Linked DNA regions of Homo sapiens. The protein of the gene in region 2 purifies or fractionates together with the protein of the main gene of each other region. This does not show direct contact. Each region holds a gene or a part of one and is shown on either strand. Other genes may lie near its edges. The genes, in order: HACD3 and ADIPOR2.

The links.
Region 1: the proteins of ADIPOR2 (region 2) and HACD3 purify together in Homo sapiens (affinity purification with mass spectrometry, with the first as the bait; 2 studies listed by BioGRID). This does not show direct contact.

What each region holds. Positions count from the first base shown.
Region 1 is NC_000015.10:65,525,175-65,536,128, reverse strand, and holds the start of HACD3 (very-long-chain (3R)-3-hydroxyacyl-CoA dehydratase 3), read right to left. Parts: upstream 5,667-10,954; 5' UTR 5,498-5,666; coding exon 5,411-5,497; intron 5,336-5,410; exon of another isoform or gene 5,296-5,335; intron 1-5,295. UniProt on the Homo sapiens protein: Catalyzes the third of the four reactions of the long-chain fatty acids elongation cycle. This endoplasmic reticulum-bound enzymatic process, allows the addition of two carbons to the chain of long- and very long-chain fatty acids/VLCFAs per cycle.
Region 2 is NC_000012.12:1,776,894-1,787,735, reverse strand, and holds part of ADIPOR2 (adiponectin receptor protein 2), read right to left. Parts: intron 9,883-10,842; coding exon 9,711-9,882; intron 7,286-9,710; coding exon 7,099-7,285; intron 6,848-7,098; coding exon 6,660-6,847; intron 4,725-6,659; coding exon of another isoform or gene 4,626-4,724; intron 3,857-4,625; coding exon 3,663-3,856; intron 1,793-3,662; coding exon 1,664-1,792; 3' UTR 1-1,663. UniProt on the Homo sapiens protein: Receptor for ADIPOQ, an essential hormone secreted by adipocytes that regulates glucose and lipid metabolism. Required for normal body fat and glucose homeostasis.

The DNA.
Region 1 (10,954 bases), on a different chromosome or scaffold from region 2:
GGAAGGATCACTTGAGGCTGGGAGGCGGAGGTTGCGGTGGGCCAAGATCACACCACTGCACTCCAGCCTGGGTGACAGAGTGAGACCCTGTCTCAAAAATAAATAAATAAATAATAAACAATCACAATAGTAACATCAAGGCTAGGCACAGTGGTTCAAGCCTGTAACCTCAGGGATCTGGGAGGCCAAGGCAAGAGGATTGCTTAAGTCCAGGAGTTCAAGACCAGCCTGGCCAACATAATGAGACCCCACCTCTAAAAAAATTAAAAAATTGAAAATTAGCTAGGCAGGTACCTGTAGTCCTACTTGGTAGGCTGAGCCAGGAGGACTGCTCAAACCCAGGAGTTCAAGGCTACGGTGAGCTATGATCACACTGCTGCACTCCAACCTGGGCAACAGAGTGAGACCCTGCCTCAAAAAAAAAAAAAAAGTTAACATCAAAGATCACTGATCACAGATCACCAGAACAGATATAATAATAATGAAAAAATCTGAACTATTCCAAGAATTAACAAAATACAACACAGAGACACTAAATGAACACATGCTGTTGGAAAAATGACGCCAACAGACTTTGTTGCCACAACCTTCAATTTGTCAAAACCGCATTATCTGCAAAGCACAATAAAGCAAAGCACAATAAAACAAGGTATGCCTGTACATGTGCCTGGTCATAATTGCAGTCAAGCATCTTTTCAGACTTATTGGTCATTCTTGTTTCCTTTTACTCTGAAATGTTTATATTATCTGCCCCTTTTTCTATTAGGTAATACGTCTTTTGCCTATTGGTCTGTAGGTGTTCTTTAAATAGTCGTGATATTAGTCATCTCTCAATGATATGCACTGCAAATGTCTTCTTCAAGTTTGTCTTAAATGTGCCAATCTTTGTCTTTAGGGTTTGTGTTTTGTGCATCTTGCTTAACACATTCTCCCCCTTTCCAATATTATAAAGATAGTCTCCTATATTTCTTTTTAGTAGTTTTTCTTTATGCGTTTAGGTCATTAATGCACCTGAAACTGATTTTTGTGTATGGCATAAGGCAGGATCTTATTTTCTTTTTGCCATTTGGATTACCAATTGTCCCAGTACAATTTCCTGAATGGGTCATTCTCTCCTCATTAATTTGTAAGAGCGCCTCTTGTCATACCTTAACTTTTCATATATGAATAGGTCTGCTAATAGGCTCTATTCTTCCATTGCTCTGTGACCATCCCTCTCATCTAAGGTTTAATATCGCAATCATCATAATCACTCACTTGAACTGCACACTAGAATTTGCAAAGCACTTTCAAATCCATTTTCCAATTCAAATCTCAAAATGGTCCTATGAGTTAGGCACTACTGTTCATATCTGTCTGGATGAAGAGCGTCAGGTTCATAAAGGTTAAGTGAATCATGGTCACTAGAGCATAAGTGTAATAAGAACAAGGACCCAATCTCATGTGTTCAGTTAGCACTCTTTCCACCAGACTCTGTTAGGTAAGGACAGGAACAATATCTTTCAAACAGCTCTCAAACACAGCTACGCTCTGTTCTCTGCTCACAACACCCAAAACAAACAAGCACCTTGTAAATAAACCAATGCTTTAACAACTATGTTTCTCGGGACAAACACGTTCATTATGTTCATCGTGAAAGTAAATTCAATCTTGAAAGTAACCCTGCTTTAGCTGGCCTCTTTGCTACCGTTCACCTCAAGCACAGACGATGCCACTGCTGAAGTCTTTATTGTCCACCATTTCTCCTCACATCAGCCGTGTTCTCTCATAGTCACTAGCCCTGCAGCATCCAAGACAGAATAGAGATGTGATGACTGGACAGTTCCCTGTGTCAGGATGGAGGGAGACAGAGCCAATGCCTCCAAACTGGAACTTAACACTTTAAAACTCACACTTACACATAAGCTGTGGGTCATGCTATAGAAAGCAGAGAGTGTTAAAGTGCTGTCCAAGAACCCCACACCTAGCTTAATGATAGACAAGAGTAGGTACTCCATAAACGATTTTTACTGAACAAATAAATGAAGTGCTTCATCCAGAGCCAGAACCACTGGTTTCTTTTCTTTTTTTTTTTTTTTGAGACGGAGTCTCGCTCTGTCCCCCAGGCTGGAGTGCAGTGGCGCAGTCTCGGCTCACTGCAAGCTCCACCTCCCGGGTTCACGCCATTCTCCTGCCTCAGCCTCCTGGTAGCTGGGACTATAGGCGCCCGCCACCACGCCTGGCTAATTTTTTTGTATTTTTAGTAGAGACGAGGTTTCACCGTGTTAGCCAGGATGGTCTCGATCTCCTGACCTCATGATCCGCCCGTCTCGGCCTCCCATAGTGCTGGGATTACAGGCATGAGCCACCACACCCGGCTGCTTTTCTTTCTTTTTTTTTTTTTTAAATAACAAATCTGCACATGTAAAACCACTGGTTTCAACAGGCCCTGCATAGAGCAATCAGTTGAGAAAGAAAAAAAAAAGGCAACCCGTGACACTCCAGAAGCAGGCATAGCACTCACAGCCAGGCCATGTTATTCTCCTATGGGACATAAACAATCTCACAGAATACCAACCTCAGACAAGGTTACTCTGAAATCCTCATAAAATGAGACAAAGGCCATTTCACAATTTTGTTATAAGCACAGACAAATACATAGTGGCTATGCCACTCACGAAATACCAAACACCCTTTGGCCAAATTGAGTGACTGCTACTCCTGTAGCAATTACAGTTTTGTTCTTATACTAGTCTCCCTGCCCTACAGGTAAGATTTATTCAGATACCCAACCACGAAACTCCCATATTTTCTTACAGGATCTTATCTGAAGTGAAACCCAACCTCCTTAACCCTCCCCTCCCCTAATCACCAACACCCAAATCCTATAATCAGTTCTAACACCCTCCTAATGAAACACCCCAGGGTTCCCCATGGAGTATGCTCTCTCAATGCAATGAGTAATAAACCCAACTTGTTTAACTACGGGTGTGTTATTGGTGGCCTTTGGGCATTGACACGGCTTAAGTCAGAGATTACAAGTGTCTAAAAGTCTATGCCTTTCTCTTTCTGGAACATTCTCCCAGTCTTAGTTTGACAAAAATAATTCTCATTTCTGGAAGTCATCACTAACTAAATGAAAGAAAGGTAACAAATTCCTTTAACACCAGATACCTGGTTCAACATCCAACTCCAATTCTACCAATAAACATACTCCTACACAAAACTTTTTGTTTGTATATGATACGCCTCCTTCTAGATAGCATGCCCTTGAAAAGCTGGGTCTGACTCACCTTTGTAAATCTGTACTACCTTACATGTGTTAGAGGATTGCTAACACATGTAAACACTCTTTTATGAGGGTAACATCATGCTTTTAAACTAATGGTAGTTGAAATATGGGTGCCTCAAAACTACAGATGTGAAACCCCAGAGAAAACAAAAACTCAATAAGGGGGAAAAATGATTTATTTTTCCCCAAAAATTTTTAGATGGTTACTTTTTTTTTTTTTTTTTTGAGACAGAGTTTCACTCTTGTTGCCCAGGCTGGAGTGCAATGGCACCATCTCAGCTCACCGCAACCTCCGCCTCCCGGGTTCAAGCAATTCTCCTGCCTCAGCCTCCCGAGTAGCCAACATAGTGAATTACACGCATGCACCACCATGCCCGGCTAATTTTGTATTTTTAGTAGAGATGGGGTTTCTCCATGTTGGTCAGGCTGGTGTCGAACTCCTGACCTCAGGTGATCCTCCCGCCTCGGCCTCCCAAAGTGTTGGCATTACAGGCGTGAGCCACAGCACCTGGCCTGTTCCGTACTTTTTTATTGACTGCTGGAAGAACCCTCTCTAGACGGGGACTTTGATCCCCATCTACAAAAGATTTTGTTTGTTTTTTCCTATTCTATTAAACCACCGTGGAGCAGTAGAGGGAGACAGCACAGAACATTTACTCATACTCTGACCCAAAAGTATAGCCTCAGTCTGGATGAACACATTAAACGACACACCATGCAATGTCATAGCCTATTTAAAGGCATTCTGGCCACTACTGTCTTCATCTTTCAACAGGAAAACTGTTTATATTCCAGAAGCAAAGATTATATTAAATTCAATAAATTCAAGTCGACACTCAGAAAGCACCTACATTTTACCGGATCCACGGGTGATCCAAGCAGATGCCTGTTCAGAGGCAGAGAGAGTTAAATGGAGTGAAAGAGATGACAAAGTGCCATAGATGTTAAGGAGAAGTTTCCAATAAGAATGACTGTAGAAAGAACCTTCCAGAGGCTGGGCGCGGTGGCTCATGCCTGTAATCCCAGCACTTTGGGAGGCCGAGACGGGTGGATCACCTGAGGTCAGAAGTTCGAGACCAGCCTGGCCAACATGGTGAAACCCTGTCGCTACTAAAAATACAAAAATTAGCCGGGCATGGTGGCACGCGTCTATAATCCCAGCTACTCGGGAGGCTGAGGCAGGAGAATCCCTTGAACCCGGGAGGCAGAGGTTGCGGTGAGCCGAGATCGCGCCATTGCACTCCAGCCTGGGCGACAAGAGCGAAACACCGTCTCAAAAAAAAGAAAAGAAAAAAAAAGAAAGAAAGAAAGAAAGAACCTTCCAGAATGAAAATTCCAGTTTCTCAAAGCCCAGAATCTTTAGTTTGGACAGAGACATGAGGATACACAGGTCCTGGAGTCTCCACTACTACGTGCCTTCAGCTTGCTTACATTAAGGGCCAAGGAGCTCAAACAGAAATGCTTAATGTAACTTAAGAACTTTTTAAGTTCTCTGTGCAACTCAGCAAACCTGAGCTCACAACCTTCAGAACAGAGGGGGAAATCACTTCCTCCAGCTCTTGTGAATTTTAAAATTAAAAGTAATGAGAATGATTTCCATCACTGAACGGTTGCGAGGTGGGTGTGGCCCCCCACCCCTCCCCCTCCCCCACCTCCGGCAGCGCCCAGCCTCAGTAACGTCCGAGGGGCCTGGCTGGACCTCTCAGGCCAGCGGCAGGCATTCAGCTACGGCCCAGCAAGCCGCTGTCACAACCGCACCCCTGACCCAACAAGCTCATCCCACATCTCGAAGGGCCCCAGCCAACTCGAACCCCGACGGCCAGGCAGCCAGGGCCGGGCCTGGGCTCCATGAAGGCCGCCGACTGCGAACAAAGAAGAGGCCCGGGGTAGCCTGAGAGGCCCAGGCCGAGCTCTCTGGGGACCCGAAGGTTCCTGCAGCCCTCGGGGGGTTGTGCCCCCGGCCCGAGATCTGCAGATGAGCCTCGAAAAGCGCCAGCACGCCGTAAGCGCACCGCGTCGCCGACCTTGTTGGCGCACTGCAGGCTCTCCGGCGCGCACGCGGACAAAGGGGGCAGGGGTCCTGGCGGGTACCCGGAGCCGCGATCCCGCGCGCTTCCCGCCGCCCGACCCGGCCTTTACCTGTACGTCACTCAGCTCCACGCGCAGATATAGCTCGCGGTGTCGCTGAGCCCAGTAGACATGCGGCGTCAACACCTGATTCTCCATGGCCACACTGCCCAGGGCGCGGGGAGGCTAGGCTCGCTGCGCCTCGCTGCCTCAGGTAGTGCTCTGCTGGCGCGAGCAGAAAGCAGGCCTCAAACCCTAGCGCTCCTGAGCGCCTGCAACCCGGCACCTCGAGATACCCCACGCTCGCGGGCCGCGCCTGCGCAGTGACGCGCCGGGATGGCGGCGGCGCCAGCAGCGGGCCTTGGCGCGAGCCGGGCGGGGGCGGGGCGCAGGCGGGATAGGGGCAGGCCGGGGCACAGAGACGCCGCAGCTCGCCGCGGCCGCCTAGGGAATTGGAATCAGCGGGTGGTCTGCTCTCCCCACTCGTCTTCAGGGACATGCTTTAAAATAAGCTTTAAAATAAAAAAGGCTGGAGACTTATGGGGGACCGATCAGCCTGGAAAAGGGTTTGGGACTGGTGTCTCTGGACGGTCCTTCGCATTCTGTTTACTGAGTACCTACTGTGTGCCTGGGTTTCAAAGCTAAACACTGGAACAACAGAAGTGAGACACAGTCCCTTCTGTCTTAGAACTCCCAGCCTATTAAAAGATGCAAGTAATTACAGATGAAATGAGGATAATAATGGTGATAGGGGACATGGTGTGGGAGCAGCGTGGAAGAGCGTTCCAACAAGGGAAAATAAAGACCAGGGCAGCGCTGCCCAATAAAACTGTAGGTGATGATGGAAATATTGCACATTGCGCTCTTTAATACGGTAGCCACTAGCCACATGAGGCTTTTGAGTACTTGAACTGAATAACCGAATTTTCAATTTTACTCACTTCTGTTTTTTTTTTGTTGTTGTTGTTGTTTTGTTTTGAGACGGAGTTTCTCTCTTGTTGCCCAGGCTGGAGTGCAATGGCGCGATCTCGGCTCACCGCAACCTCTGTCTCCCGGGTTCAAGTGATTCTCCTGCCTCAGCCTCCCGAGTAGCTGGGATTACAGGCATGCGCCACCGGCTAATTTTGTATTTTTAGTAGAGACGAGGTTTCTCCATGTTGGTCAGGCTGGTCTCGAACTCCCGACCTCAGGTGATCCGCCCGCCTTGGCCTCCCAAAGTGCTGAGATTATAGGCGTGAGACACCGCGCCCGGCCAACTTTATTCACTTCTAATTTAAACTTAAATATCCATATTTTTGGTGGCTATTCTATTGGACAGTGCAGGAGACTGTCTCAAAAAAATAGGAAACTCAAACTAGAGACAACACTCATTTATGTCTTACTTAAGCTGTCTTGTCTGTATCGGGTTTCATCCCCAAGTTCTTCTGCAGAGAAGAATTTAATGGGAAGAAATATTTATATGAAAACTAGAACTCTGGGACAAAAATGGAACTCATATTCAATCCTGTTAGCTCCCATTTATTTAGCAAAGTGATTCTATTAGCACCCGTTTGTTTAGCAGAGGGATCTAACGCTGAAAACAAATTCTGCTAGCTCTCTGGAAACATTTAGCTCAAGAGTGGACAGAATAAAATATAGAGAGTTTTCATATAATGAATGTGCTGAGCTCACAAAGAGTTTATGATGATAGGAACTGAGGGCCGTGGGAACCATTGTCAGACATTTGAGAGCCAACCCTTGAGAACGGGATGGTGAAATGCGAGTAGGAATTTGACTGAGTAAGAACCAGGTAGGCCGTGGAAGCACAGGGCGCTTGCTTCGTTCACAGGTGAAAAGATGTGGACCAGGTGCAGCGTCTCACGCGTGTAATCCCAGCACTTTGGGAGGACGAGGCGGGAGGATCGCTGGAGCCCAGGAGTTTGAGACCAGCCTGGGAAAAATGGCAATACACTGTCTCTACAAAAAATACAACAGTTAGCAGGGCGTGGTTGGCGCGCCCCTGGGGTCCGAGCTACTCGGGAGGCTAGGGTGGGAGAATTGCTTAAGCCCAGGAGGCGAGATCGCGCCACTGCACTCCAGCTTGGGTGACAGTGTGAGGCCCTGTCTTAAAATTTAAAAAAGAGAGAGGGTTGTGGAAGGAGGTTCTGCTGCTAGGGATTAAAGGCATAGAGGAGAGAGGTCGCCCTGAATCTGGAAAGGCAGAGGGTGCATTAGGAAAGTCTTTGTTTGCTTCACTGAGGTGCCTATACTGTATCCCACAGACACATGGGAGCCAAGGAAGTTTGTTAACCTGGAGATTAGTAAAATCAAATGTGCTCAGCAAGAAAGACCTGTCAGAGAGGAGGAGGAATTGGTAGTAGGCAAAGCAATGGGAGACCAATGCAATCTGCCAAGAATGAGTTGATGAAAGCAGTGACGTTGACAGTCTTGAATTTTAACGATAAAATATTTTTTATGATAAAGGTATTTTATTGTATTGTGTTTACTACAATGCAGATGCAATATGGGGCACTTTTTAAAAACATTGAGATGTAGTTTACATATAGAACATGGGTAAATCTTAAATATTCAGTTTAAGCTGAATTTTTCTATATGTATATATCCATGTAATTATCACCTAGATCAAGATCTGGAATATTTCCAGTATCCCAGAGGTTATTTCATGTTAAAATATCTTTGCCTCTCAGTAATTACTATCCTGATATATCACCATAGAGTCTTTTTTGTCTGTTCTGTTCTTGAATTTTATATAAATGGAACCTACAGTGTCTGGTTTCTTTTTCTTTTTTCTTTTTTTTTTTTTTGAGACAGAGTCTTGCTCTGTCACCCAGGATGGAGTGCAGTGGTGCAGTCTCGGCTCACTGCAACCTCGGCCTCCCAATTCAAGCGATTCTCCTGCCTCAGCCTCCCAAGTAGCTGGGATTACAGCTGTCCGCCATCACGCCCAGCTAATTTTTGTATTTTTAGTAGAGACGGGGTTTCACCATGTTGGTCAGGATGGTCTCTAACTCCTGACCTCGTGATCTGCCTGCCTCAGCCTCCCAAAGTGCTGGGATTACAGGCATGAGCCACCGTGCCTGGCCCCTAATTTTTGTATTTTAGTAGATACGGGGTTTCACCATCTTGGCCAGGCTAGTCTTGAACTCCTGACCTCATGATCCACCCGCTTCAGCCTCCCAAAGTGCTGGGATTACAGATGTGAGCCACCGCACCGGGCCTTGGTTTCTTTCATCAACATAATGTGTATGAGATTTATCCATGTTGCTGAGTGAATCAGTAATTCATTCTTTTAGTTTTTGGTTTTGCTCTGTAGTAGTTGACTATATGAGTATACCACAAATTATTTATCCATTCTCCTATCGATGGATATTTGTGTTGTTTCTAGTTTTTAGCTATTACAAATAAAGCTGCTCTGAATATTTGTGTACCTGTCTTTTGGGGATAAATGCTCTTAATTATCTTGGAATAAATACCTATGAAGGGAATTGCTAGGTTACACAGGTGTATGATTAGCTTTAGTAGGTGTGCTAAGCAGTTTTACAAAGTGTTTTGGTCAATTTACATTCCACGGCAATGTTTGAAAGTTCTAGTTGCTCTATATCCCTAGTATTTTCAGACTTTTTAATTTAATTTTATTTTATTTTATTTTATTTTATTTTTTGAGAAAGAGTCTTGCTCTGTTGCCCAGGCTGGAGTGCATTGGCGCGATCTCAGCTCACTGCAACTTCTACCTCCGCAGTTCAAATGATTCTCCTACCTCAGCCTCCCAAGTAGCTGGGATTATAGGTGTGCACCACCACACCTGGCTAATTTTTTTATTTTTAGTAGAGATGGGGTTTCACCATGTTGGCCATGCTGGTCTCAAACTTCTAGGCTCAAATGGTCTCAAACTCCTGGGCTCAAGTGATCCTCCTGCTGCAGCCTCCCAGGCGTGAGCCACAGCACCCAGCCTAATTTTTTTTTTCCAGCACCACCCCCACCCCCAGCCAATGTTTTTAATTTTAGCCATCCTGGTAGGTGGGTAATAAAAAATAGAATAATTTTAATTCAGCGTATTTGAAACCTGAGGCTTATCAGCTGACTTCTACCAAGGTGAAAGCTATTGATATAGAAGAAGACTGAATGTTGGCATTTTGCCTCAGATGCTTCATAAGAAAGGTCCAGTGGAAGTGGGCCTATCCAGCCTGGTTTGACCACTAGTAACATACTGCAAAATGACTTCTTTAGGCCTGAGTTTCCACATTCATCAAATTAGGTAAATTTGATGAGTTGGATTTGGTTCCCTCTAATGCTCTTATCAGCTGTTTCTAAATTTTTCTGCAAAGAGACCCCACTATTATGGACCCCTCTCTGCAAGAGAAATCTAACAAGAAAAAAAATAGAAATGGAGAGAAGAAAGAGTATCATTCTGGTGAACTATAAAACTCCAGGGTGGGGCTGGACATGGTGGCTTATGCTGTAATCCCAATGCTTTGGGAGGCTGAGGTGGGAGGATCGCTTGAGTTTAAGAGTTCGAGACCAGCCTGGGCAAAACAGTGAGACCCCATCTCTATAAAAAATTTTAAAAATTAGCCAGGTACGGTGGCATGTGCCTGTAGTCCTAGCTACTAAGGAGGCTGGGAGGATCTCTTAAGCTTGGAAGGTCAGAGATGCAGTGAACTGTGATGGCACCGATGCACTCCAGCCTGGACAACAGAGCAAAACCTTGTCTCAAAAAAAAAAAAGCAAACCAAAATACGCTGGAAGGTGGCAGGGGAGATTAAAAGGCAGAGCCAAGTGGCAGTGCCAAGCTGAAATAGGTAGGGCTAAGAGTTTTATGATACTATCGGTCAAATGAAAATGCAAATTTAGCCTTGTCTTTTTGTCCTACCTTCTAGATGCAGCCTTCCCAGCCTCATTTGGCCAAGGGCCAGCTCTCCCTTCTCAGAGAATAGTCACCACTAACTACAGGAAGCATTTGCTGAGTACTTGCCATGGATTAAGCTCATTCCCAGGGCTGAAGGCTGATTTCCTGCCTTTGGCAAGGGGTCATACACATCCTTGTTGTTATCTATGTATAAAATCTTCTATTCTGGAAGAGGTTTTAGAAAATGAGCTGTAGAATTTGGCTGGATTCAAACCACCCAGGGTCACCCAGCCAGTTATCCCTGAGCAAAGTCAGGTTTCTCTAGATGGTACAAAGCTAAGTGTGGAGAGGGAGACTGACTGGATCAGTGCAGGTATCTAATGGGGAATCCTCCACAGCCAGATCATACACATGTAGCCTCCCAACTCTGCCTGGAGAATGGGTATTGTAGGCCATCTTTACTGGGAAAACCTTCCCCTCTACCTGTCAATCCACAGTTCAGAAGTGTGAACTAAAAATGAAATCCTAAGCCTCACAATTGACTGAGCAGACCCCTTCTTGGCCAAGGGGACACCAGAAAAACCTTAAAAACTGAGTTCCAGGTCATGACGGGATGGGAGGTCACATATGCCTCCTTATACCCCCTCCCTTTTGCGGTTGAGACACAACAACTGACCAGCATTAATGTGAAAATAGAGAGCATAAGACTGATGGAACAACAACAAAAAATAATAAAAAATAATGTGTTTAAAGACTGATGGAACGGACTC
Region 2 (10,842 bases):
TCCCAAACACCTACTGAGGACGCCAGTCCCCATGCTCAGGACCTCCATATTTAGTTCTAATACCCACAACCCCAGGATATAATGGAGTCATCCCAAGTCTTTGATGACAGTAACCTAAGACTCGAGCACTATTTTGGTGGTTCACCTATGGGCCAAGATCAGAATTCCATGAACCAGATCCTTTCCCCACCACTTTCTCTGACACCGTATCAGGTAGGCCTGTGACATGAGCCATCGTCTTGTACCTCACTCCCTGGCAATAACATACCATTGTATTTAAAATGCCACACCACTCTTATCCCTGTAAAGTGAGGTTCAGTGAGTGCTGACAACTCCGTACTACAACTGGCTTTAAGAGTTCTGCTGGCTTTCTTATTCAAGGAGAGCCGAGGTGTCTGTCACATCCAGGCTTACCAAGACAGTGTACCAGAGGTAAAACTCATCTTTCCTAATCCAAAGGAAGGGTCTACCAATCTATGTAGATGAGCTCAGGAGAAACCTGGACACGTCAGAATCTCATTTGTGGCTGGCTCCCATGCCAAGAACTATGTCAGAGAAAGGTCCATTTCTATTCCCTCAAGGAGGAAGTGTAGTTAGGGCAGTGATTTTTAATAGAGGGAAATTTAGAGAGTGTTCCAGAGCTCCACAGCAAGGATATGGAAAACTGTCCCATCCCTCTAATAAGACTTCCCATAAAAGTGAGCGGGATGCCAGGAAGTAATCAGATCAGCCCATGCTAATGTTTCTAGAGCTCCTCCATGGCCTCCAGCACCCCTTTACCAGCTGCTAGGAGTGTGTCAGTCTCTCAAATGACAATGACACCCTAACTAGAGCCTTTATCTAACATCCTGTCACCCACTCATGTGCTGCTTCCACTGAGAAAACACATACCACTCCCCTCTACCTCAGGCCTCCCAAAGGGAGTGGTCATGTCACCACTGGGCTAGGGCTATACTCTCTGCCCCATTAGGGTCCAAGGTATGTCAGCCTTTAGAAGGCATCTTGGTGCACCAAGACACTGTACATTCCGGGGCTATCACCTGATCCTACAGTCACTTTTTGTGCAAAATTCAAACAGTGTGTGGTACTTGCATGTTTCATTCTATACAAAAATTCTCCCTCCCTCCCTTACCCCTATGTTTTAAACATTTATATAAAGTCTTATTTAAACAGTTAGAAATCTTATTTACATTAATTTCTTTGTTCTCCCAAAAGAGCATTTAAAATCACACTCCCACCCCTTATCGGATATAAATGTTCACTTAAATTGGTTTGTATTATTGTCATAGAGAGAGAGAAAGGGAGAAGAAAGAACCACCAGCTAAACTGTTTCGCCATCTTCTACAAATAAATATGATATGGATCAGAAGCCAGTTTGCCAAGGGTCTTGCAGAGCCCGCAATCAGTAGATCCCAAGAATAAGCCAGGGTTTGGGCTATGTCTCCTTTTCTCCCAATTGATGCACTCCATCCTTTGAGGTATGATTTATTTTTGTTTTTCTCTTCTCAGTCATGTACCACGCAGAGCCACTGGGCCGTCACAAAGCCCACGAGGCTGTCAAAGTTTTGGGGCTCCTCTGGTACTGGCATCAGTAGCCAGCAGGGAGGCCCGCAAGTGCCGCAGGCCCTGGTTTAGGGTCATAGTCCCTGGAGACTGGTAGGTATCACAGTGCATCCTCTTCACTGCAGCCCCCGCCGATCATGAAACGAAACTCCTGGAGGTTTGAGACACCATGGAAGTGAACAAAAGCTCCAGCAACCACAAAGATATGAAACAGCTGATGAGAGTGAAACTGGAGGGGAAAAAAGAAGAGAAGGGGGTAGAGAAACCCATACATTATTAAGACTGCTAAAGATTCTTAGGATCGTTTAATCCTGGTTTATGCTGAGCAGAAGGCAGGGAATGGATGTGACAGAGCTCAAATTCAAGGCGTCCACAGATCCTGGAACATCCATTAGGTGTAACACATTCTGCTGAGCTGAAAGCCAGCTGTTCCCAAAGAAACCAAGGTGCTGCCACTAAGCTCTACACATAAAAATCTACAAACTTAACACTGAAACCAGTGGCAAATGACACACAGACTCTCTTGCTAAAGTGGCAAATGACACACAGACTCTCTTGCTAACAGGCCACAAAGGTCCCAAGGATCCCTTGACACCTAGCCATGGGCTATGATTACACATACAGTCCTTTTCCTACTCACTGCTGATGGACATTTTGTCATGGACAAGAGGACTAGAGCTATGGTCATTTAAATGTTGCTCTCTGTTAGAAAAACTAAAGAGGCTTCCAGGATGGTGTGTGGAATGTCACAACATATGGTCCCCAGAGTTTCCTTCAGTGCTACGATTCTCAAATTTCATGAACTACATAATGTGTCAAAAACTAAGCAAACAGGCCCTTTTACTTCTCAAGTCAGAAGCTGGTCTACAAGCAAGTGACATTATTTCTGATTTTACCTGTTCTGTTGAATGCTATTCCACATCTCAAGAAGGGTAATCAATTGCTCGCTGCACTTCAAAAATTACACTATTCTGTCATTATAATCTCAAAATGAAAAAGTACAGTGGCAAAGCAGTATTTATCAAGAGAAAAACACTGATTTTAGAAGCAAAAACTAGAAGAAATCAAGTCACATCCCAAGAGATGTTTCCTAGGAAACCAAAGGGGATTAATTTCCCCCAAAGAAAGGGGATAAAGGGCAAAAACCCCTCCATACCAATGTTAAAATGATGATGATGAATCAGAAAGATAAATTAGCTAATTTGAAGCTAGAAAGATTGCTTAAGTTCAAGATCATCTTCATTTTACAGATAGCTAAACTAAACTTTAAAGAGATGAGATCATCAGGTTAGTCTATAATAATCAGCAATAGGCTGAGGAACAGAATTACAAAGGTCAGATTTCACATTAAGCGTATTTCCAATGTTGTCTTGTTGAAAATATTTCAGGCCCTCTTTGGTTATAAGTTTTTCTATCTATATCAGTCCTTATATTTTCTTTTCCCTCTTCTCTTTCCTCCTCTCTTACCAATGACCACAATCCAGTTCAATCCAGTTCCCTCTTCTTCACAATCCCTCTTCTTCCACCAGACATACATACACTCAGTCTCCCATTACAAATCACTAAATTTCGGTATAAAAAAAGACCCTGATAGAAATCTGGTCCTAAAAAGGGCTCTGGTGAAAATCTGGTCTATCATCCTCATTTCATAAATAAGGAAACTGAGACAAAGAATGGCAAAATGACTTGCCATTGTCAAAAAGAGCACAGATTCTGATATTAAAACTAGCCTAATTCAAATTCCTGTTCTACCACTTAAATAGCCACATGGCTTGGACAAGTGGCCTCACCTCCCTAAGCCTTAGTCTCCTGCTTTGTAAAATGAAGACATTAACAAGAGTTATCATACCACATAGGGCTAATGTATGTAATGAGGTAATCCGTGCAAAGCACTCTGTACCATGCTGAGCACCAAGGAAGTGCTCACTAAATGTTAGTTATTATTGTACTTATTGTCCAGAGAAAGCTCAATAGGGAGTTAGGACCAGGATACAACTCTCCTGACTTTGTGTCTAAAACTTTTTCTATTGCATCACTCTGCAGGATGCCAATAACTCATGAGCAGATACCTACACACTCAGTCACCCCGACATACTTACCCAGATGTCACATTTGCCAGGGAAAAAGCGTTCGGGGATCCGGGCAGCATACAGGGCAGCTCCTGTGATGTAGAGGCTGGCCATCAGCATCAACCAGCCTATCTGCCCTATGGTGGCGGCCTTAAGGAACCCCTCCGAGATGACATAGTGCAAGGTAGGAATGATTCCACTCAGGCCTAGGCCCAAAAACACTCCTAGGAGTCACAAGAAGAGAGTAAAGTAATGCAGAAGAGAAACAAAGAGCCAGAAGTCAGTATTACAGCACAGCACCATTAACTCTGTAAACTGAATATTTCAAAGTAGCATATAAAATTAGCTTCCAGTTTTAAAGGAAAAAGAAGGTTCTTCAAACTCTGGGACACTGTCACACAAGACAACACAGCTATGTTCTAAAGATTTACAAATGCAAGGAGCCAGCCGGGTGCAGTGGCTCACACCTGTAATCCCAGCACTTTGGGACCAGCCTGGCTAACAGGGTGAAACCCCATTTCTACTAAACATCCAAAAAGTAGCCAGGCGTGGTAGCGCACTCCTGTAATCCCAGCTACTCGGGAGGCTGAGGCAGGAGAATCACCTGAAGCCGGGGGCAGAGGCTGCAGTGAGCCGAGATCACGCCATTGCACCCCAGCTTGGGCAACAGGAGTGAAACTCCGTCTCAAAAAAAAAAAAAAAAAGCAATGAGCCTCACTAAGAGAGGCTTAGCTTAGTAAGTCAGCAGTCTTCAAGGGTTTTGAATTAATGTTGCTAAATGTTTTCGGAAAGGACAGCTCCAGGAGTTTATTTAAACTGTCCTAGCCTGTCCTTCTACAGACACAGGTTACAATACAAGCAATTTTACGTATCCCATCTTCTCTTTGAAGCAGCAGGCGTTGTTGGGGTGGAGAGGCGATGAATGATCACATCACCTGGCATCACCTATTTTTAATAGGAATCTAAGGCTGGGCGCAGTGGCTCAGCTCACACCTGTAATCCCAGCACTTTGGGAGGCCGAGGCAGGCAGATCACTTGAGGTCAGGAGCCAAGATGGCACCACTGCACTCCAGCCTGGGCTACAAAGCAAGACTCCATCTCAAAAAAAAAAAAAAAAAAAAAAAAAAGAAAGAAAGAAAGAAAAAGAAAAGAAAAGAAAAAAGAAGAAAAAATTTAATCTAAATCTATAACCTATAACTGGGCACTTAAAAATTGTTAAATGCCTTTAACAAATGACCTAATGGGGGTGGGGGATGGGAGAGAATACTATAAGCTCCCAGACCCCTAAATAGCAATCAAGTACAAAAGTCTAGCAAATCACTCAGCCACAGCCCTACTGCCTTACTGCCTCCAGAAGCATCTAATGTTTTTTTAAACTTCTGGATATGACCTAAGTTCTAAGATCAATTAAATGAGTCTCAACCAGCATTTTTTTAAATGAACTAGAATAAAATTTAAAATATCAGACTGTAACATACGTGGAGGATTAAATACTATTTTGTTAAAGTTTTGTAATTTATATATACATGAACTTATGTATAGATACACGTGTTCAGGACTGTAATAGAAAATGTCATGATGGAAAAAAAAATGTGAAGTCCACTGATCTAAATCCACTTTGAAACCCGTGTATCAGCCAAAGCAACACAGGAGCTCCCTGCCTCTGCCAGTAACTGCTCCTACATTTTGACACAGAGTTAACAATGACCCTTGCAAAACAAGCTGTCATTTGGTAAGCTTTCTCAACAGATAAAGAACCTATTACTTGCTTTGGACATTACCAAATAAACTGCTGGTATACAGCAATATATGTAAGCACAGCTATGGGATGCATACTCACAAATAAAATGGACATCTAAAAGAGAAGAGGAAAATGGCAATGCTGCTCTCACAACAGGTAAGAACCAAGCAGACCTAAAGAAAAACTATTTCCTACCTCTGCTCCTCTAAGGAAAGATTTGCTAGACTTTTGCACTATTCACTTTTTCTTTTCCTCTACATGCTAAGCAAAGGCTGCTAATGGTTTCTGCCTATCATTCTCTAAGTCAAAGGCTCAGGAATTTGGTTCTTCTGATGTATGTAAATAACAGAATGCTCAGCTGTACTCAGCAAAGACATTCTTATCTCATGTGCTCAAGCAGGCTTAACACCACTGTACTACTCAAGTACTGTTGAAAGCTGACCCTGACCAATGCTCATTTGCTCATATGAACACAAAAAGGAGGACGGCAGAGTGTTTTAACAGTGGTCACTGACATGAGGTTACTTCTGTGTCTAACCTTCCAGGTACCCCCGGATGATCCAGGGTTTAGATTTTAATACTAAATGGTTTTGGGGGTTTAAGGACGAAAGGAAAAACACTCCTTGTTCATTCTCAGTGGGCACTGAGCTTGACACTGAGTAGGAGACAAGAACATCTCTGCTAATTCCATGTCCTACAAGAAGACTCAGCCAAGGCACTGAGGGGCTTGTGGCTTTCTCTATGATCTCCAGCTAAACAGGCATTATCCTAAATATAAAAAGCCCCTTTATCCCTACATCAGAAGGGAGATATGGTGCCCACTTTAACAAAACATAATCAGCATGGGGGTGAAGCCTTAAGCAGATTATCCATTATAAAATAAAAATATAAAACAAAACAGAAAATGACAACAAAAAAAGAATCACTACAAAAAGTACACTCCACAATGAGTAAGAGAAATCATTGTTTACAAAAGTTATAGACTACCGCTTTCTGGATGGTGTTTAGCCATAAATTCAAGTAAGTAACAGTCCCAAATTATATCACCTCATACTCACCATGACCCCTCAACCCTAATGCTTTAAGACAATTAATAAACACTACTAACAACAACAACTACTACGACTACTACATAAAAAAACCCCCAACAATAGGAACTATGATTTCTTCATCTTGGCATCACAAATACACAGCATAATGTTTGGCAAATGGTAGAACTTTAATAAATAGTGAATTTAACTAGTGAATAAATGAATGTCGAATGTAGAACCTCCCCGTGCTCTTACCTGCTCTTACTCCCCGATACTGAGGGGTGGCAAACATGTCCCACTGGGAGACTATAATGGCTGCAATGCCCAGCACACAGATGACAATCAAGTAGATGAAGCAAGGTTGTGGATTACAGTAGAAAGAATAATAAAGCCAAGGAACAAAACTTCCCATAATCAGAAGAGCAATACCAGAGTAATCCAGTCTATGACAGAAAAAAAAAATCCATTTAATGCAGTAATTTAAAAACTACTGGCCACTACAGGTTCCAATTAATCCCTCATGACATAAGCCATCAACGACACCTAAGAGCCAAACTGGGTTGCTCTTTAATTTTTAAAAAAAAAAAAGTTTGCATGAGATGATATTAAGAATTCTGCCAACTCTGCTGAATGTTTTTCCCTAACGCACTACCTCTAAATCATTGGCCAAAATACGGACTTTACAGATACTTACTTAGAGAAGAGCCGAGAGACCCCCTCTGAGTGGCAGTAGACTGTGTGGAAGAGCCATGAAAAAGAAAGGCAGAGAATGGCTCCTAAGAAAAATAATCCAAAGACCACCTTCTCTTGCAGAGGGGCCACAAAGGAGATATTTGGGCGAAACATATAAAAGATCCCCAGGCACAGGAAGAATACACAACCTAGGAAAAAGAGCACAGAAAATAGATAAAATATCACCCTTTAGAAGAGACAGTATTATAACTGATTCTGTTTTCAATCCTTCTGCATTACAACAATATCTGAATCAAAAGTTCAATGAGAAAAATCTTCCAAATAACTGAAGCCTATCCAAAATTGTGGTTTACTTCCAACATTGTTGGTATCAGAAATACTTCAGCTTCATAAACTGAATATACAGAATATAAAAACTTATCTAAGGGCATAATCTAAAAAGAAATCAGACACTGCTGCTACTTCTTAGAAGATATAATGAAGCCACTTCTACCTCTAGATGTAGAATAGTTTCATTTATACAGTTTTTGGCACATACCTCATAGTCCAGCTTTCAAAGGTCCATTGTGCTTTTGCTTTTGTTTTTACAATGAATTCCAATACCCCTAAACCCTGCCAAGAAATACAGCTTTCCTCTACCAATAGCTGTCAGGGAGTGTCATGCTGTTTCTCTGGCCCTCATCAGCTGGTTCAGGAGATTCAAGAGTTAAGGACAAAATGCCTACTCAGGCCATTTCCTAACCAATTCTTACACTGTTCTACACAGAAAGATGCCATGTTCCTATTGCTTAGGGAGGGGCCACCTAACACAAGGCAGGCACAGAAATTTCAACTTCAACGTTTGCTAAGTAATTGTTTTATCATTTTAATTAAAAATTACCCTTGAATTAGAAGTCAGCAACAAACTTGATTTGACCCTCTACTCTCCTCTCACTATACTAGCAGGCAGGAACTTAGAGGCACCATGGAAATCAAATGTGTGATAAGAAATGCAAATCAAATGGAGTAAGGCCAGAAACTAGTATATTCACAAGGTTGTACAACCATCACCACTAACTAATTCCAAAATATTTTCATCACCCCAAACAGAAGTACTGTATCTGCTGTCATCCCCCATTCCCCACTCCTTACAGCCCTAAACAACCACTAATCTACTGTCTTTATGGATTTTCCTGTTCTGGACATTTCATGCATGTAGAATCAAACGACATGTGACCTTCTGTGTCTGGCTTCTTTCACTTAGCAAATGTTTTCAAGGCTCACCCATGCTGTGGCATGTATCAGTGCTTCATCCCTTTTTGCAGCTAAATAATACTCCAGTGTATGAATACACCATATTTTGTTTCTCCATTACCAGTCGATAGACATCTGGGTTGCTTCTACTTTTTAGCTATTATGAATAATGTTGCTGCAAACTTCTGTGTTCATGTTTTTATGTGAACATGTTTTCAGTCATCTTGGGTAATATACTAGGAGTTGATTTCTGGTAACTCTATGTAACTTTTTGAGGAACTGCCAGACTTTTCCATGGGGACTGCCCCATTTCACATTCCTACTGGCAACGTATGAAAGTTCCAATTTCCCCACATCCTTGCCAAGACTTGTTATTTTTCATTTTCTTGATTATAGCCATCTTAGTGGGTGTGAAGTGTTGAGATTTCTCACTGCATTTCTCAAAGCATTTGATTTGCGTTTTCCTAAATGCCTAACGAAGACAAACATCTTTTCATGTGCTTATTGGCCATTTTAGATCTTCTCTGGAAGAACATCTATTCAGATGTTTTACCCATTTTTAAAATCGGTTGTCTTTATTGTTGAGTTGTAGGAGTTATTTATTAGATCCTTACCAACTAGCTGATTTGTAAATATTCTCTTCTCTATGGGTTGTCTTTTCACTTTCTTGATAATGCACTTTGATATACCAACGTTTTTAATTTTGATGAAGTCCAATTTATCTATTTTTTCTTTGGTGGCAATTCTCAGAAACAGTCACCTAATCCAAACTTACAAGGATTTATATATGTTTTCTCCTAAGGATTTTATAGTTTTTGCTCTTATGTTTGGGTCTTTGATCCATTTTGGGTTCACTTTTGCATATGTGAGTTCGGGATCATTCTTTTACATATGGCTCAGTTATCCCAGCACCATTTGTTGGAAAGACTATTCTTTCCTCTACAGTATTCTTTCTTTAATATACAATCATTATGGAGAAAAAATTACAGTCCATATTCTACTTCAGGCCAAACTGAAAATTAGCAGTGCATATAAGTAATGCATTTTAAAAGATCAGATTACTTCTATTAAATAATACTTTCTTCTCAGTGGTCACTACAATATGAAACCACATTTTGTATAGCAACTTTTACTTGGCCTGGTTTGAGGACAAGATCTGAAAATCTAGTAGAAAGAAATATAACTTAAGTTATAACAAAATCATAGTGCAAACCAGGATAAACTACGAGTAAACCAGTCAGAAAATTCATCATTAGAAATTCAGAAAACAAAATGGCAAATCCAAATACATTTCTGAAGTTCTGTGCTTACCCTCAAATACATGAAAATAAAAAGGAAGAAAGTGAATCACCAGCTCATTACATCACTGACATTACATACCTAAGAGATGTGTCCAAATGTTGCCTGTTTCTGTGTGTATTCTGAAAATGCTCTTAAAACAGGCCCGGAAAGAAGGCATAGGAGGCCGGTGTCCATGCAAGAGGAAGTCATTATCCTTGAGCCAGTCTGGTAGTACATCATGAGGGATCACTCGCCACCGACCTTCCCATACCTGGCAGAGAGGTATTATCAAACATCTTTGTGATTTTAGTTGTCAATTTACCAACACTGACCCCTAACAACTGTGTCTTATCACACTGTTTTATAATGGGAAAAACAATTCATTTTTAAAAAGGCAAACATCTCAAAATGTATAATGTCTTATATTCTGAGTTCTTTAAAGACTGATGAAAAATATATTTTTGCCGGGCATGGTGGCTAAGGCTTTAATCCCAGCACTCTGGGAGGCCAAGGTGGGTGGATCACCTGAGGTCAGGAGCTCGAACCCCATCTCTACTAAAAATACAAAAAATTAGCCGGGTGTGGTGGCACATGCCTGTAATCCCACCTACTCGGGAGGCTGAGGCAGGAGAATTGCTTGAACCCGGGAGGCGGAGGTTGTGGTGAGCTGAGATGACGCCATTGCACTCCAGCCTGGGCAACAAGAGCAAAACTCTGCCTCAAAAAAAAAAAAAAAAAAAAAGAAAGAAAAAATATACTTTTAAGTGGGGGCCTTAGGAAAAGGAAAGAGTAAACAAATTTATAGGAAATGCCCTAAAAGAGTGGTTTCAAACTTTGTTTCAACCTGGCTAATGGTGGGATGAAGGTTCCAAAGTCTCACTCATACTGACCTCCTTCATCCTACCTATATAACAGACTTTACCTCTGATAAATCCCTGTGGTGTTAATATGAACATTTTTATATTTAATATTCCTATTGGTAAAAACAGAATTACATAGAATCATACTTTTGTGCCTTTTGCTAAAATCTCTCCCTCCATCTTACTCTTTCTTCTCTTCCCACTATGCAAATATGATGAGGCAGAAAAGAAAGAGCACAGGAGTCAGAAAATTGTGGACCCCTGGCATTAACTAGCTATATGAGATTTAATTAATTAAAAAACCTCCAACCTGCAGCTCCTTCATTTGTAAAATAGCGCTTCAGTTACTTCATAGGGAAATCATGAAGATC